Linked DNA regions of Homo sapiens. The gene in region 2 interacts genetically with the main gene of each other region. Each region holds a gene or a part of one and is shown on either strand. Other genes may lie near its edges.

Evidence for each region.
Region 1: of IRF2 (region 2) and PRDM1, changing one suppresses a phenotype caused by changing the other (phenotypic suppression), as found in Homo sapiens cells (one study listed by BioGRID).

The regions. Positions count from the first base shown.
Region 1 is NC_000006.12:106,081,358-106,089,420, reverse strand, and holds the start of PRDM1 (PR domain zinc finger protein 1), read right to left. Parts: upstream 3,086-8,063; 5' UTR 2,868-3,085; coding exon 2,826-2,867; intron 1,668-2,825; exon of another isoform or gene 1,575-1,667; coding exon of another isoform or gene 1,491-1,574; intron 1,221-1,490; coding exon 972-1,220; intron 1-971. UniProt on the Homo sapiens protein: Transcription factor that mediates a transcriptional program in various innate and adaptive immune tissue-resident lymphocyte T cell types such as tissue-resident memory T (Trm), natural killer (trNK) and natural killer T (NKT) cells and negatively regulates gene expression of proteins that promote the egress of tissue-resident T-cell populations from non-lymphoid organs.
Region 2 is NC_000004.12:184,464,326-184,471,598, forward strand, and holds part of IRF2 (interferon regulatory factor 2), read right to left. Parts: intron 1-7,273. UniProt on the Homo sapiens protein: Specifically binds to the upstream regulatory region of type I IFN and IFN-inducible MHC class I genes (the interferon consensus sequence (ICS)) and represses those genes. Also acts as an activator for several genes including H4 and IL7.

The DNA.
Region 1 (8,063 bases), on a different chromosome or scaffold from region 2:
GTAAGGAATAGTCCCAGTAGCAAATTCTGGATTTCTACGGCCAACCATCCCCTTTCCCTACTTTCTGAAGGAAGTAATAGAATTGACAGTGCTCTGTGCTAATGGTGGTATGGGAAGTCTGCTGAGGGGTCCTTTCATTCAACTCAACCCAGTAGTAGACTAGTAAGTGCAACTACAGTAAGCCAAATTCTGAAAACAAGAGGTGGTTCTGCAAGTTATTTCACAGCTAAACATCACGCCTAGCTATAATCTTTATATTAAAGGTAAACACAAATCAGTTGCTCATTCCAAGTTTGGGTTTTCATCCCCTTTGAAACAACAAAGAGTGTACCCACTTCAGAGGCCAGTAAGGAATTGGCCTGCCAGCCCAGCCCCAGCAAAGGAGCTGCTGCAGATAAACAGTGGTTAGCTCTGAAGTCATCCAGACAGAGGACACTTTTACATGACCCCCTTTCTCGGCTTATACCATCACTTCACTTCATAAACACGTCAAAGTTTTGAGGATAGTTTTAGAAACCCAGCTAATAAAGCTGGCTTGTTAAAAAGAGTAAAGCCAACTAATTACCAAAGACAGACAAAAGAAATATTAAAACTTTTTTTTCCAAGAAAAAGTTTTCTCCCTTAAGAGATATTGTACAACAGGGACACTAGGGCCAGTGGGCCCAGAGCTTTCTTGAAGTTCACTGACAATTTCACCCACCCTATGCTGCAAGTTGCTTTTCTAAGACATGCCAATTTGCCAAAATATTTAACTGTTTACTAATTAGTGAGGAACAGTTGAAGGCTGGAAGAAATGAGAAGGAAATGGTTTAGGGAAAGAGAAAGCAATGCAAGAATTGAATAGAGCAATCAATTATTTACTGATACTTACAGATTCTCAGAGGTTTTCAGAGATATACAAGGCCTCAAGGGCAAGTAGGGAGATTTGGCACCAGGTCCCCAATCTTCTTGTCAATAAACCAGAGGCTTACCTCTTCACTGTTGGTGGCATACTTGAAAAGCAGATTCCTTGGTAAGGATGCCTCCGCCTGAACCGAAGTACCGCCATCAGCACCAGAATCCCAGGGGTGGTCGTTCACAATGTATGTACACTTCTCTTCAAACTCAGCCTCTGTCCACAGAGTCATATCCGCATCCTCCATGTCCATTTTCATGGTCCCCTTGGTCCCCTCTGCCAATCCCTGAAACCTCACAGTGCTGGAGTTACACTTGGGGGCAGCCTGGAAGAGAAAGGAAAGGCCTTTAATCCCCATTGTCCCGCCGTTCCTGTGGCTCCTTCTGAGAGGCTATGACTAATACAGTAGTCTGAAGACTTTAAAAGCAGATGCAGAGTGCTTGGTACAGTTGAGAAAGAGCCAAGAAGCCGTATAAAGTAAACTGCCTTGAAAAGAAGCAAGGTTTTTAAATGCTACTCTTAGTTAAAAAAAAAAAAAAAAAAAAGAATGTGGCAACCTCACTGTGGGGAAAAGGAAAAAAAAAAAAAGAATCACCTCTGAACAATCCCTGGCTTTACCTCTCATGGCAGAAAAATGTTCTGGGCACACAGTCCAGTGTCCCAGAATGCCTGGGGTCATGGCCGCCAGACCCTCGGCACTGTGGAAAAGCTGCCTCAGAAAAGTGTCACAAACAAGGAGAGGAAGAGGAAGGAGCTCTGTCTGCCTCTGAATGAAGCTAAAAATGGAAAGCGCGTGTGGTGCAGGAGCGGAACCCAGCCTGCCTTTTCCAAATGGGGAAGACCGAACTTTCCCACCAGCTCCCAACGCAAAACAACTTTCAAAACAACTGCCTCCTCCCTCTGCTGCGAGCTCTCTTTCATCCTCTCACATGGAAGACTGAAAAGGGTTGCATCCTGCCAGCATCACTGAGCTACGGCCTCTTAGAAATCACTTGGACCACAGGAAAAGAGGAGGAAAAATGGGTGAAGGGGAAAACAGCCTGCAGTGTCTTCTGACTTGCAAGCATCTCATACCAAATTGAAAAGGCAAAAACAAAACATAAAACCGTTTAATAAAATTCCCTGGAGAGAATTCCTTTAGGAGTCCTCAGCTACAAATAGCACTTTCCATTTAAATCTGAAAGTGTATGAATTCCCAGAAGTCACTGATGTACTACAGTTTACTGTAACTAAAGTTATAACAAATTTAGAAGACTTGGAGGACAAGCTCTGCTTCCACTTGTACATTGATGAGGATATTCCCCCAAAATCCTCCCTCACACTCAGAAAAAAACTGTTTTCCAAAGGCAAAAAAAGGTAAACAACTTCTGTAAGGGTTTTCTCATATAGACATGTTTGATAAAAATGAGGAATATGGGTATCATTTCCATGTAAGAATGTGTGTTTGTTCAAATGTAAACATAACATTCTGTGGAAGTCCTTCAAGGAGGTTTTTACATTCTTCCACTTCTCTAAATAGGATGCTCTTAAAAAAAAAAAAGTTGGATGCAAAGTTGTTTTTCCCTCAGTTATGATTTAAGCAAACCTGCTTATTTTTATTTAGTTCCAACATGTAGAGTCATGACGCCAAACACATGTTAAAAATAAAATAAAATAGAAAACTTCAGCCAACCCGGAATAGTTTGACGAGTGTGAGCTGGAACCACTACTGAAATTTCAATGAATTGGCAATTATGTCTAGAACTGAAAGGGTTAATGATTCATAAGGAAAGTCTCACAAATGTTTGACAGCACTAAGTGCACTAAAGCAGAAGCATGTTTCTACTGCGACATTAGCCAAAAAAAATTAATAATAATAACAATAAAGGAAAAGAAAATAAAGTTTTCAGATCAATTTCAGAATTAAAAAAAAAAAATTCAAGTTCCTTACCAAGGTCGTACCCACACGTTTTTCCAAGCAAATATCCAACATCTGAGAAAAGTCTCGTTCATCTCTACCCAGTCCACATTCTCCCCGCGTCCCCCGCCAGGCTGAGCCGCACAGACGCGCACCTCGGCGGTCCCTCCTCGCTTCGTCCGGCCGCCCGGGCGCCCGCGTCCCAGCTCCGGGCGGACAGGTGCCGCGGTCGCTGCTCTTGCCTCTCCGCAACACTGGAGGGCCGAGTGTCACGGCAGCACTTTGTCTGTGTTAACCGTCTGGCTTCCCCTCCCTGCTTAAGATTTCCTTAGCCACTCGGCTGCGCGAAGTGGGGGCGTGGCCAACGTGGCCAACACCACCTGGCCGAGCCCAGGGCTTTCCCCCAGATTGCTAGCACAGCCGCCGAGAGCTTCCTCTCTTCGCATGTGTATTTCAACATTGACTTGGAATCTTCTTACTTCCCTTTGAAGGCACTTAACCTCAACGCTTACTTGGGCTCTATTGTATTCTAAACACTCCAGATCGCCCTCCTTCCTGGCGCGGCAGAATTAGGGGGCGCACGTTCCTTAAATTAAGGAAACTTAAAATTTACCTACACAGTTTCTGATTTCTCAGCTCAAATCCCCAGGTACAAAAGACACAAATCTTACTTCAAAAGAGCAAGTTAAATTGTTTTTGCAGCTAGTGTAATACAGTGGAGCTGTCTGGTCCTCAAGCTGTTGTGTATGTAACGCACGTTTCCCCGCCCCCCGCCCCAAAAGTTGTAACATTCCGTTTCTCCTGCTAACGTTCAAACTTGGCAGAACTAACTTTCCTCTTTTAACTATTTAGTAAATAGGGAAATAGGCAAAAGTTATAATTCTACAGATTGTTTGTTTTCCTTTCCTCTCCTCCCAGAACCCACAGGCTGACTTCCCAGGAGTGTAAGTAAAATGTAGAGCATTAGTCGTTTCACAGTTCAGAGGAATATTGAACTGATCACTGCAAGTGGAAAGCGGTCGGAGGCAGTAATTAGTGGGGCTTATTCTGAGCCCCGGCCAGCTTTTCCTCCAGCCCAGTCAGTCCTCTGTTGAAGGAAGGACATCCTGTGATGATGGCATACAATGTCCTGTTTGTTTATTATTAAGAGCGTGGACCTTGCATTCCTGCTTCTCATTACAAAACAAACCAGATGCTTTACTTCCTTCAATGGTCTTGTGCCTTCAGCAAGGAATCCTTTAATTCAGAGAAACAATGTTTATAGCAAACACCCCATTTCAATTATTATTTAGATCATTGAAATCCAGGTCTTCCATTTTTCCTGCTTGCCTTACCATAGGTAGGTTTTTTTAAAATCATTTCTCCTTCGACCTGCAATGTCTTTTCTAACATTTTAAATACACGTGTGCACACACATCCACCCACACACACACCCACATACACACACCCAGTTCCAACCTAATGATACCAACTTAGTCATACAATGAAATGGACATCTGAGTATTTGTTTACAGGAAGAAATGAAACAAAGCAAAACAAAAGCCCAACTCAATCCTAAAAAATATGTCTGTTTATCTTTAAAATTTCTTTTCTCACTTTTAGAAAACTTTTCTAGAATTTTTTTTAGGGGAGAGGGGGAGAGGCAAAAGATTATTTGCCAGGAAATGGTGTCTAAAGTCTTGCTGCAATCTCTCTCTCAGTACAGAACAATTAAATTCCCACTAGGGGACATGATTAGCACACACTCGCTGCTTGCTGCGTGGCCCACCTGTGATTGCATGTTATGCCAGAGGGGACGCTAGCACCAAGAGGAAGCAGGACTTTTAGAAGGCAGATCTGCTGGGGGTGGAAAACTGAATGAACAATTCCTAAGAGTCCTCAGAAAGCTCCAAGCTGATAATTAAACAAGAGAAATCCAGCCTGCTCAAGAGGGTTTATTAACTGATGCTGAGTCAGCACCACAATGGACAGAAAAACAATGTAGTCATACTGAAGGCTGGCCTGCTGTTCAAACAGTCTCACTTGCAGATGTTAAAGAGTATTTCACTTCCCTTTTAGAATCAAACTCTGTTCTTAGGCCACATACACCATCATGCAACTGCTGGTGAGTCAACCATGATAGAGTAAGGGAATAGGCAAAAAGTTTGATATTTGAGGTGGGAAGAAGGCTATTTTAAGCCAAATATTTGCTTTAATGACTGGAAGATGCCAGTGAATCAACTCACTGTTAATTAATATCAGCCTGCACTCACCTTCAGAGGTGGTGAAATGGGCTTGAGTCTAGGGAGGACGCAAACTTCAAATACCAGTGTGGGGCTTAGCCAGGCAACCCTAAAATTAGTTCCAGGTGTCCCAGCTGAGCTGGACAAGGCCACGGGTAGAACTTTAAGGAAAGTAAATTTTCAGACACAGAGTGTTGGAATGTAAAGTCCTTCACATGTTTGCTTCTTGTCTCAAAGTGATTGGGAAAAAAAAAACCTCCAAACCAACTTTTGACTATGATTATAGTAGTCAATGATGGATATCATCATTTAAAATGAAAGCTACCAAAAAGGAAGAAGAAATAAAAGAAAGGAAGCTTGCTCCATAATAGGAAAAAACATGTCCATATTGTAATATTTAGGTATTGTCCAGCACAAAACCATTAAGGGGGAATAAAAGGGACTGACCTCTGAACTTCACTCGGTCCTCCCAGAGGGCCTGAGCAGTGCACCTTTTTACTGCTGACTAAAGCTGGGAGACCCTGGCAGCAGTACAGCTGTGCAGAGAGAGCTATCAGAGGCTGCCACTGTCTGGAATCTTATGTCTCAAAGGGTTTGTTTCTAAGTAATAACTTGGTGCATTTTTAGTCACTATATTATTTCCCCCCAAGTTAGAACACCGAAAAGAACCTCAGTTATCTTTATTAATCAGCATTTCTCAGGCAGAGCTCTCACATTAAAAGTGTTCACAATGGCAGCAAATCATGAATGAGCCAAATAGTTCTGTTCTCAGAAATTCTCATCTATTCCCGTGGATGGCATCATCACAACAGTTCCATCAGCCAATTTTAATTCGGTTTCAGCTACTGGGCCAGTTTTTTTCCTCTCCCAGTTCCTGGGTGGATTGGGAATTGCAATGTTGGTGGCCAGATGACTCTATAGGGAAAGGACTATTGTAGAATGAAGGGAAATTGAGCACCAAATCTGGAGACCTGAACTCCACTTGGGGAAAAAAAATTTTTTTTTTCGAAAGGAACTTTTTTTTCCTAAGGTAAAAAAAAGGGATGAAATGTACCCAAGATGAAACATGTTTTCATTTTCTCATTCAACTCCTGCCATACCCAAACAAGGTCAATGACAGGCTAACCACATCAAGAGAATAACCCCCCCACCCTCTTCTTCCTACTCCCTACCACCCACCCACCCTCACCCCCCACACCCATTTCCCGCTTCCTGTAAGTTAGGCATCTTCATGCTGGTAAACATTTGGGGACCAACTGTAAGCCTGAGCCTGAGAGAGGGGCACTGAGGCTTTGAAGCCCTCCCACATGTCTCAAAGCCAGGCTGAGAACTAGAGGGACACTTGGTTTTTAAACTTTAACAGCCTTTTCAACTCAAATCACTGGGCTTGGCCTTCTGGCTGCCTTCCTTTTTAAAAGCCGGACAAGAAGAGCGAGTATGTGTGTATGAGTGAGAGAGAATATATGTATGACACATGCTATGTTACAATGCAGCCTGTGTGTGTCATTGGTGTGATATGTGTACGATATGTTTCGATGATGAGTTGAATCAATTTAAAAATAGCACAAGCTTCCTTCTCATGACACAGCTCACCTCCCAAAAACTTTTGACAAACATATTCAGGGCCTAAACATTGGGACGGTGACCTTCAGGGGCTGTTGGATGTTTTGGAATGAGGTCAGTGTTTTGACTTCCTACATAAGGGAAACAAAAATTAAGTAAATTCAAGAACACAAGTAGAGCTCCCTTCCCACCCTAGGAATGAAGATGTAAGTGTTCTCCAGAGGACTTTATAAAACCCACAGGATGTCCAAGGTCTCAGAGTATTTATAGAACCACCTGTATCATTACATCTAAGTATTAATATCTTTTTTAGCCCTCCCTTCAGAAAGACAGTTGTATTCTCATCTAATCATTTATATATGATTTTAAAATTATTTTTTAAACTATTCCTTTAGTTCAGCATCTACCAACTTAATAAATGATAATAGCAATACTAATCATTTCCAGATGACTTGTGGGGAAACCAAGGTTTGGGGTTTCCAAAATTTGCTTTCCCTTCTAATTATATTTTTATCATAGTGAATATTCAGACAGAAGAATTTTAATTTCTGAGAAGTCTGTGGGAAAGAACAGGAGAAGGAAGATTATTTCAGAACTCAGAAGACACTTCCTAACCTTACAGCTGGTGGGAAAAAAGGAATAATCCTAAAATTAAACTAACAGAAGGCAAAACCTGAACTGTTAACAAGGGAGAAAAAGAGCAATAGGAAAGGTGTCCACTCTGAAACTCATCTCTTGTCTTTATTTGGAGAACCGGAAGAGTAGCTTCCACACAAATGAGAGAGCAAGACTGTGGGTCAAATGTTTGCTTCTCTCACCTTTCAGTGGGAGGAGAAGCCATTCTGGAAGAGGGGAGGACTCAAGGTGGAAATAAAGGGAAGGTCGCCAAGAATAAGATTAGGGAGGACCAGTTGGCTTAAAAATGAAGGTGAAAGGCTTCTATGGAGGATGAGCAGGAACAGCAGCAGAAGACCCAGTGCAGGGAGGAGCAGTCCCCTTGGAAGAGGAAAAGGGACCCTACAGTTGTACCTGCCACCGTGTGCTTCCCTGAAATCACAGAATATTAACCAAAGGACACAGGTGATTTTATTTAAAATGGGACTGACGATTTCTTCTCATCCTTTCTAAGGGAAGAACAAGACTGTAGAGGCTTGACTTTCTTCACGCCAAGGTAAGTTAGGATAGAAGAGACAGAATCATAAAGGTTAATAGTGAAATCATTTGACCACCCCCAGCCCCCAACTCCCATTCTGCTCCAAAGGGGATTTAGTATCCAATCTAAGTCGAAGACCATATATCCCCTTCTACACTTCATTTTCCTGCTGAGGAAACTGAGGACCAGAGGTCAGGAAGCAGAAAGGGCATCTCTCCCAGACTCTTTTTTGGTAACTGGATCTTAACATAGAACTGTGAACCTGGGAAATGCCAGCCCACAGGCAGGGCTGCAGCTCAGGGAGCAAAATCAGAACTTGGTTCTCAGATTTCC
Region 2 (7,273 bases):
AAGATGGGGACCATAAAAGGTCTGAAGATAGGACCATATATGACATGAAGGTAGGGAATGTATAGGATAGGGAATGTATGGGATATGAATATAGGAGCCATATAGGATATGAAAATAGCGACTGTATAGCATATGAAGATAGGGAATGTACAGGACATGAAGATAGGGACTATACAGGACATGAAGACAGGGAATGTTCACTCTCACTTCCCCTACAAACATTTTATACTTCACTTACCATGAGAATTAGATCTGTAGCCATTTGTGTACATTAAATGCTCTTTTCCAAAAGGATAATAAAACCTCTAATCTCCTCAAGAGGACCAAATAATTTCACCTTGGTTCCCAAGGTGCTGGGAAGACGTATCTCCCTAGGCATGTGTATTTCAAAAAGCATGAAAAACAGACCTTGGAGACATCCCCAGGTTACAAGTGTCTCACATTCTGAAAGGTTAGGATAAGACCCCTGGAACCTTTTCATCCCATGTCAGGGGAGCTAAGGTGTTTGTCTGTTTGGTTTTCCTTTTTCTTCTTCTTTTTTTTTTCTCTCTCTCTCCTTTTGGGACGGGAGAGGGACAGCTGCTCTGTCCCTGTCAACAAAGTGTAGCCCACATGTACATTCCATTAGTTTTCAGTGTCACCTAAGGGTCAAGGTTTAGGGGCCTGACACAATAGTGTCACTCAGGCTGTTGCCCCAGTTGTAAATATCAACAAGGAACTCTTTTCTCCTACCCAGGGGTTTTGTGTTTCTGCAGTATTCATATGTATAAAGAATGTTAACTGTGAAGTGAAATCATATCTCAAGCCCTTCACAGTTACTGACAAAACATTATGTCCCAACCTCACCAAAAAGCCACCAATCTAAGTGTCTCCAAGTAGCCACAGCTGTCTGAGGACAAAGGCTTCCAAGAGCCTGGCCAGGAAAGCCCTGGCTCTAGAGCCTGCTCCACACATGGAGGCAGAAAGGCTCGAGAATGGCCCCGTCCATGCACAGCCTCCTCCTCGGCAGCACCCAGTGTGTTTTTCCTAACCTTACGTGGACCAGAGGTGAGGGCAGAGATGACATATTAGCACTCTCTTGAGAATATTTTTCTGGTTAAAAGGGTAATTGGTAATTGTGCTTGCTGTTTTAAATTTGGAAAATACAAAAATGTTTCAAGAAGGAAAAAAAAAGCCAAACACCCACAATTTCACCATCAAAAAGATATGTTTTCTTCCAGGTTTTTAAAAATACCCCAATATACACATATGTTTTAAAAATAAAACTAGAAGCACAATTTCATATCCTTTTTTCCCCACCCAATCAGCATAGATCATAAATATTTTCCCATCACTAAACGCTGCTCGAAAACACGAGCTTTATAAGCTACCTATAGTCTGTCTGGATGTGCCGTAATTCGTTCAAATGTGTCTCTATTGTTGGATATTTAGCTTGTTTCCAAGTTTTTACATAACAAAAGCTAATTCAATAAACATCCGTGTACATACATCTTTGTTCCCATCTCTGGTTACTTCACGTAAGTAGGTTCCAAGAAGCAGAATTTCTGGAACAGAGAGCTTAACATTTTTAAGACTTTAAGTATATAGCACCAAGGTAAATTCCAGAAAGTTTATTTCAATGTAGAATCCTGACTACAGTCACTGTGGAGTACTCAGTGCCCCACTCAGTGACCCACACTACCCACTTATGGAATTCATAGTTCAGTTTTAACTTGTCCCATCTGGTTGTTTTTTGTTTTTTGTTTTTTTTTTGAGATGAAGTCTCACGCTTGTCACCCAAGCTGGTGCGATCTCGGCTCACTGCAACCTCCGCCGCCTGGGTTCAAGCGATTCTCCTGCCTCAGCCTCCCGAGTAGCTGGGACTACAGGTGCCCGCCACCATGCCCAGCTAATTTTTGTATTTTTAGTAGAGACGGGGTTTCACCATGTTGGCCAGGCTGATCTTGAACTCCTGACCTCAGGAAATCCGCCCGCCTCGGCCTCCCAAAGTGCTGGGATTACAGGCGTGAGCCACCGCGCACGGCCAATCCCATCTGTTCTTTAGGAAAACACATTATCAGCCCATTCTATTTCCCTGATTCCATATTTACCTCCCACAATCTCAATAGCACAATTACATTGATTTATCATTACAAATTACAAATATGAATGCATTAAATTATTACATGTGCCCTGAAAATACATACATCTATTATGTATTATTTCAAGAGTTTAAAAATAAAATAAAACAGTACCAAGGAAGATCAGTACGGGGGGAGAAGGCCTAAGAGAGCTATTACCGTATTTCCGTGGTTGCCTCCAAAGGCAATTTTAGATTGAGTTTGGGGCCTCACATAGTGAGTATCAGTTTCCCCATCCCCAAACAATGCATCAACATCAGCACACTTATACATTCTGAGAAATGCACCATTAAGCAATTTTGTCATTGTGTGAACATCACAGAGTGTACTTACACAAACCTACATGGTATAACCTCCTACACACCCAGGTTTATGGTATGGCCTATGGCTTCCAGGCTGCAAACATGTACTGCAGGTTACTGTACTGAGGACCGTAGGCCACTGTAGCACAATGGCAAGTATCTGTGTATCTAAACATAGCAAAAGGTAAAAGTATGATATTATCATCTTATGGGGCCACAGTCATGTGTATGGCCCATTGATGACCTAAACGTTGTGATGCAGCAACATCACTGTACCCTAAGGTGACTTCAGCCATGTCCAAGTGACAACTACTCACAACTTCATGTTTCCTGGTGGTATAATGTCAGCAGCTGCCTAGCAGTTTTCCCATCAGCCTTTCTCATCCCCAGGATAAAAGGATCTGATCCCACAGTCAGCAGTGGAGGGTCCTCCAGTCTTTCAACTGGTCCTTGAGTTATCACTAATTGCCTAACCAACTTCACCTCACCCCTCCGATCTCTAAAACTCTTTCAGTGACATTTATGCAAAGACAGAAAATCTCCCTGCCTGATTGTCTCTTCACTCTCTCCCATTCAAGAATCCAGGAGTCACTAGTCACCTATTTTCCTTCTCATCACCCCATCCCCCAACTCTCACTTTCCACCAGCCTCCCATTGCTATCCTTTCACCCGACACACCCATCATATCTAGGTGTTAAGACACTCTTATCACCACTGTAATTTTTCTCATCTTTTCCAATAGATCTAGGGTAAAAAGGACAAAAGAATTCTTTCAAAAATAACATGGTAGATATTACTTGAAATAAAGCAATTTGTATGCAGTCCCTCCTCATCTGAAAGGTCAATCTCATGAAATGGGAAAATTGGTAGGATTCTAAGCTTAGGGGGCCAGGACAGCGTATTCTGTCTACAGAGTACTTCTTTGGATCTTCCCAAAATCTGACATTCATAAGAACAATTAAAATGTACACTCAATAAGAACAAATTAAAGTGTATACTCATCTCTCCTTTGATGGCATTAGGTGTGCGAGTATCAAATGCCTTCAGCAGATAGCAACAGTGTTAAGTATGCCCAAATGAAATTATTTATGAAAATCACACAGCAAGTAGTTAATTCTCAAAAATCGTCATTTAATGAAAACAGGACAGGCTTTTATCACACAAAATCCTAAATTAAGGTATTTTGCTGAACTAAATTAGTCTTGCCTTTGGGATAAAAATACTTAGAATCCATCATCAGAAGGAACCTCACACACCTGCTTCTCATCTGCAGCCATTCTTTGTCAACTCCGCTCTTTCTTGCTTATCAGAAGGGAATACTAAACTGATAAAGGAGTTATAAACCAAAATAGAAACAAAACAAAACCAAACGCCTAATTCTCCATGGCCTTCCTGGACAAAGAGACAAATACATAAAATAAAATAAAGTCCTTCTTGCCTCTTCAAAATGGAAAACTGGGCTGGGCGCGGTGGCTCACACCTGTAATCCGAATACTTTGGGAGGCTGAGGCGGGCAGATCACCTGAGGTCAGGAGTTCGAGACCAGCCGGCCAACATGGCGAAACCTCATCTCTACTAAAAATACAAAAATTAGCCCGGCGTGGTGGCATATGCCTGTAATCCCAGCTACTCGGGAGGCTGAGGCAGAAGAATCACTTTAACCCAGGAGGCGGAGGTTGCAGTGAGCCGAGATCACACCACTGCCCTCCAGCCCAGGAGACAAGATCGAGACTCTTTCTCAAAAAAGAAAAAAAAAGGAAAATTCAATGTATCACAAACTTAACATGAGTCCCATTTCTGTATGGCAAGCAAGGGCAAGTGGGCAGAGCCAACAGAGTGACCACAGGCCCCTGTCCGAAGTGCTTTTTAAAATGTGGAAAGAGGTTTCATCTGAGCCAAGGAAAAGATCAACTATTTGGCCCTGGGAAGAGATCCTCGATTCAGTGGCTTTCCATTTCTACTCTGGCCACACACCTGAGGGAGGCTGGGGAGCAGGGATCCAATGGTGAATAAGAGGCTCGCTATCAAGGCAGGAAGGGGAAGGAAGGGAAAGGGGGCTACAGATAGTCTCAAATCTAAAAGGTCCCGTGTAATTTCTAAAAGTCCCCTCCCCAGGTGATTTTCACAACACACACAGGTTCTGTCTCCTGAGGATGACAGAATTATCCAGCCACATTTTACAGTGAAAACTTCCAAAGGAGGAAGTGATTGGAGAACTAAAAGGCCACTCTAGGCATCTGAGTTCATGCACCTTCCACCGCAGAGCCTTGTACACAGCTGGCTGTCAAGAAATATTTAATAAACAAATGAAATAATAACACAATGTGTGCATTTAAGAAAACCATTGCATGTGTTACTACATTTAACAAAATCAATTATTCATTTAAAATAATTGCATGGGGTCCCTGGATCCCCAAGCAGACCAAGTTATTGATGGAGGGTCCCGGCTAGTTTCAGTGCCTCAGAAAGCCTAACGGGATGGTGAGTTTCTCTCACACGGAGCCGGCCAGCCTGTCCAACACACCACGGGTCTCTACCTTTGGCTATAATGAGTTCAGTGAGATTTGATGATACCAGTTTTCTCAAGGCAATCAGGAGTTCTGACTGGAAGTCATATGTGTTTCTGAGGAATAAAAATGGGCACTAGGGCCGGGTGCAGTGGCTCACGCCTATAATCCCAGCACTTTGGGATGCTGAGGAGGGAGGATCATTTGAGGCCAAGGGTTTGAGACCAGTCTGGGCAACATAGCGAGACCCCGTCTCTACACAAAAATGTATGTCGGGCTTTGGGGTGGCACATGCCTGTTGTCCCAGCTACTCAGGAGACTGAGGCAGGAGGATCACTTGTGCCCAGGAGTTTGAGCCTGTAGTGAGCTATGATCGAGCCACCGCACTCCAGCCTGGTGGACAGAGTGAGACTTTGACTCTAATAAAAGAAAAAGGATACATGAAGTCTACTTAAATAAACACAATTTGTTTCAGAGACAGTTTGTCATAAGATGGAGCTTCTGAGGGGGAAAATTATTTTTAGGGGATCTTTGAAGGTCAATGCCAAGACTTCAGGCCTGCTGCTTGCTCTGAATCCAACGAGCCTCAGACGGAGTCCCAGGGACAAAGGGGACCTGTGAGCTGTGTTTCCTGCTTGTGTGTTTTCCTTGGTACTCTATAAAAAATACTGTCTTCATGTTCAAATCTGGACCCTATATGTTATTCATCATTCTTTGTTCTTTGTTGATAAATTAAAGTTTGATGGAACTTCCTCACCCACTTTTCCATCAGTCACTCCCGCCACCAGAGCCACTCCTCAATTCAGCACACTGTGCATGAAGCTGGCATCGTGCACCGACCACTGATTACACTCAGGCCAAACACAGGGGGCCGACGGGGCAGGCAGAGACCGAAGGTCCTGACCTCCTACCCCTGTGCAGGAAGGAACATCATGTCTCATACAGATGAAAAGAAGAACTAATTTTTACTAATAATAACTGACATTTCACCGCAGTTTCGTTTATTTGCATATATTACGTATTGTAATATATGTTATAAATATATGCTATCAGTTAATATTTACTTTCATGTATGTTGTCACATATACAGTGTTGGGCACACAGTAAGCATTCAATAAATGCACATGAGCCAAGATGGTAAAGCAGGCCGGCGCAGTGGCTCATGCCTGTAATCCCAGAACTTCAGAAGGCTGAGGTGGGCAGATCACCTGAGGTCAGGAGTTCGAGACAAGCCTGGCCAGCATGCTGAAACCCCGTCTCTACTAAAAATACAAAAATTAGCCAGGCATGGTAGCGCACGCCTGCGCACACCTGTAGTCCCAACTACTCGGGAAGCTGAAGCACAGGAATTGCTTGAACCTGGAAGCAGAGGTTGCGGTGAGCTGAAAGTGTGCCACTGTACACCAGTCTGGGCAACAGAGCAAGACTCTGCCTCAAAAAAAAAAAAAAAGAAAAGAAAAAAAAGGTGGTAAAAGCAAAATACTACAATCAGCCCAGTGCACACCTGCAATGACAGATAATGAAGAAGTTGACACGAGAGTGAAGAAGATTCAGACTAAAGCACAGAGAGGCTTGGGAAGATTTTCTTATCTGACATAAAGAGGGAAAATACATTGGTCCAATCACTGTTATTTCCATATCATTTGGTCTCCATGGATACCACCTAACTTTCCTTCTGACAGGAAAAAATTCACTGACAATATCGGATTCCACTGTGAAATTTTTTTGATACTTTATATAAAAGTTATTCCATGTTTAATCTTTTATCATTATTTATATATGCTCAGAAGTAAAATCCCTCCTTGCTGGAAATTCTATGAGAAAGATAGTGTCTAATCCAGTCATGATTATCTGGCCTTTTTACACTAAGAATAATCTGATATAATTTTGAAAGTTAATGCCTTACACATTTGTAGACTGCCATAATTTATGCAATGTTCTTTCATATACAGTATCTCAATTGTTCATGAAAGCAACACTTACGAGATATAGTTAAAAATTATTATTATCCTCCTTACAGCTAACCCCAAAAGGTAATAACTATATTTTTTGTTGTTAATGGTCAGCTCACTCACCAGAACACAACCTAGTGTAAAGATGCTGTCTTTCTCGCTGTCAGTTGAGTATACAGAGGCTAGCACTGTGTCTGGCTTATAATAGATGTTCTAAGGATATTTATTGAGTGTGTACATAAATTCTCTTGTCTGCGTTAAGCCCTTTTTGGTATAAGGCAGATAAGGGAACTATAACCCAGATACTCCATTTAGATAGAGTACAGTGGTTTTTCACTATCAAAAGGATATTATGTGAAAATGCTCTAAAAACAACAGTTTTGTACGAGATG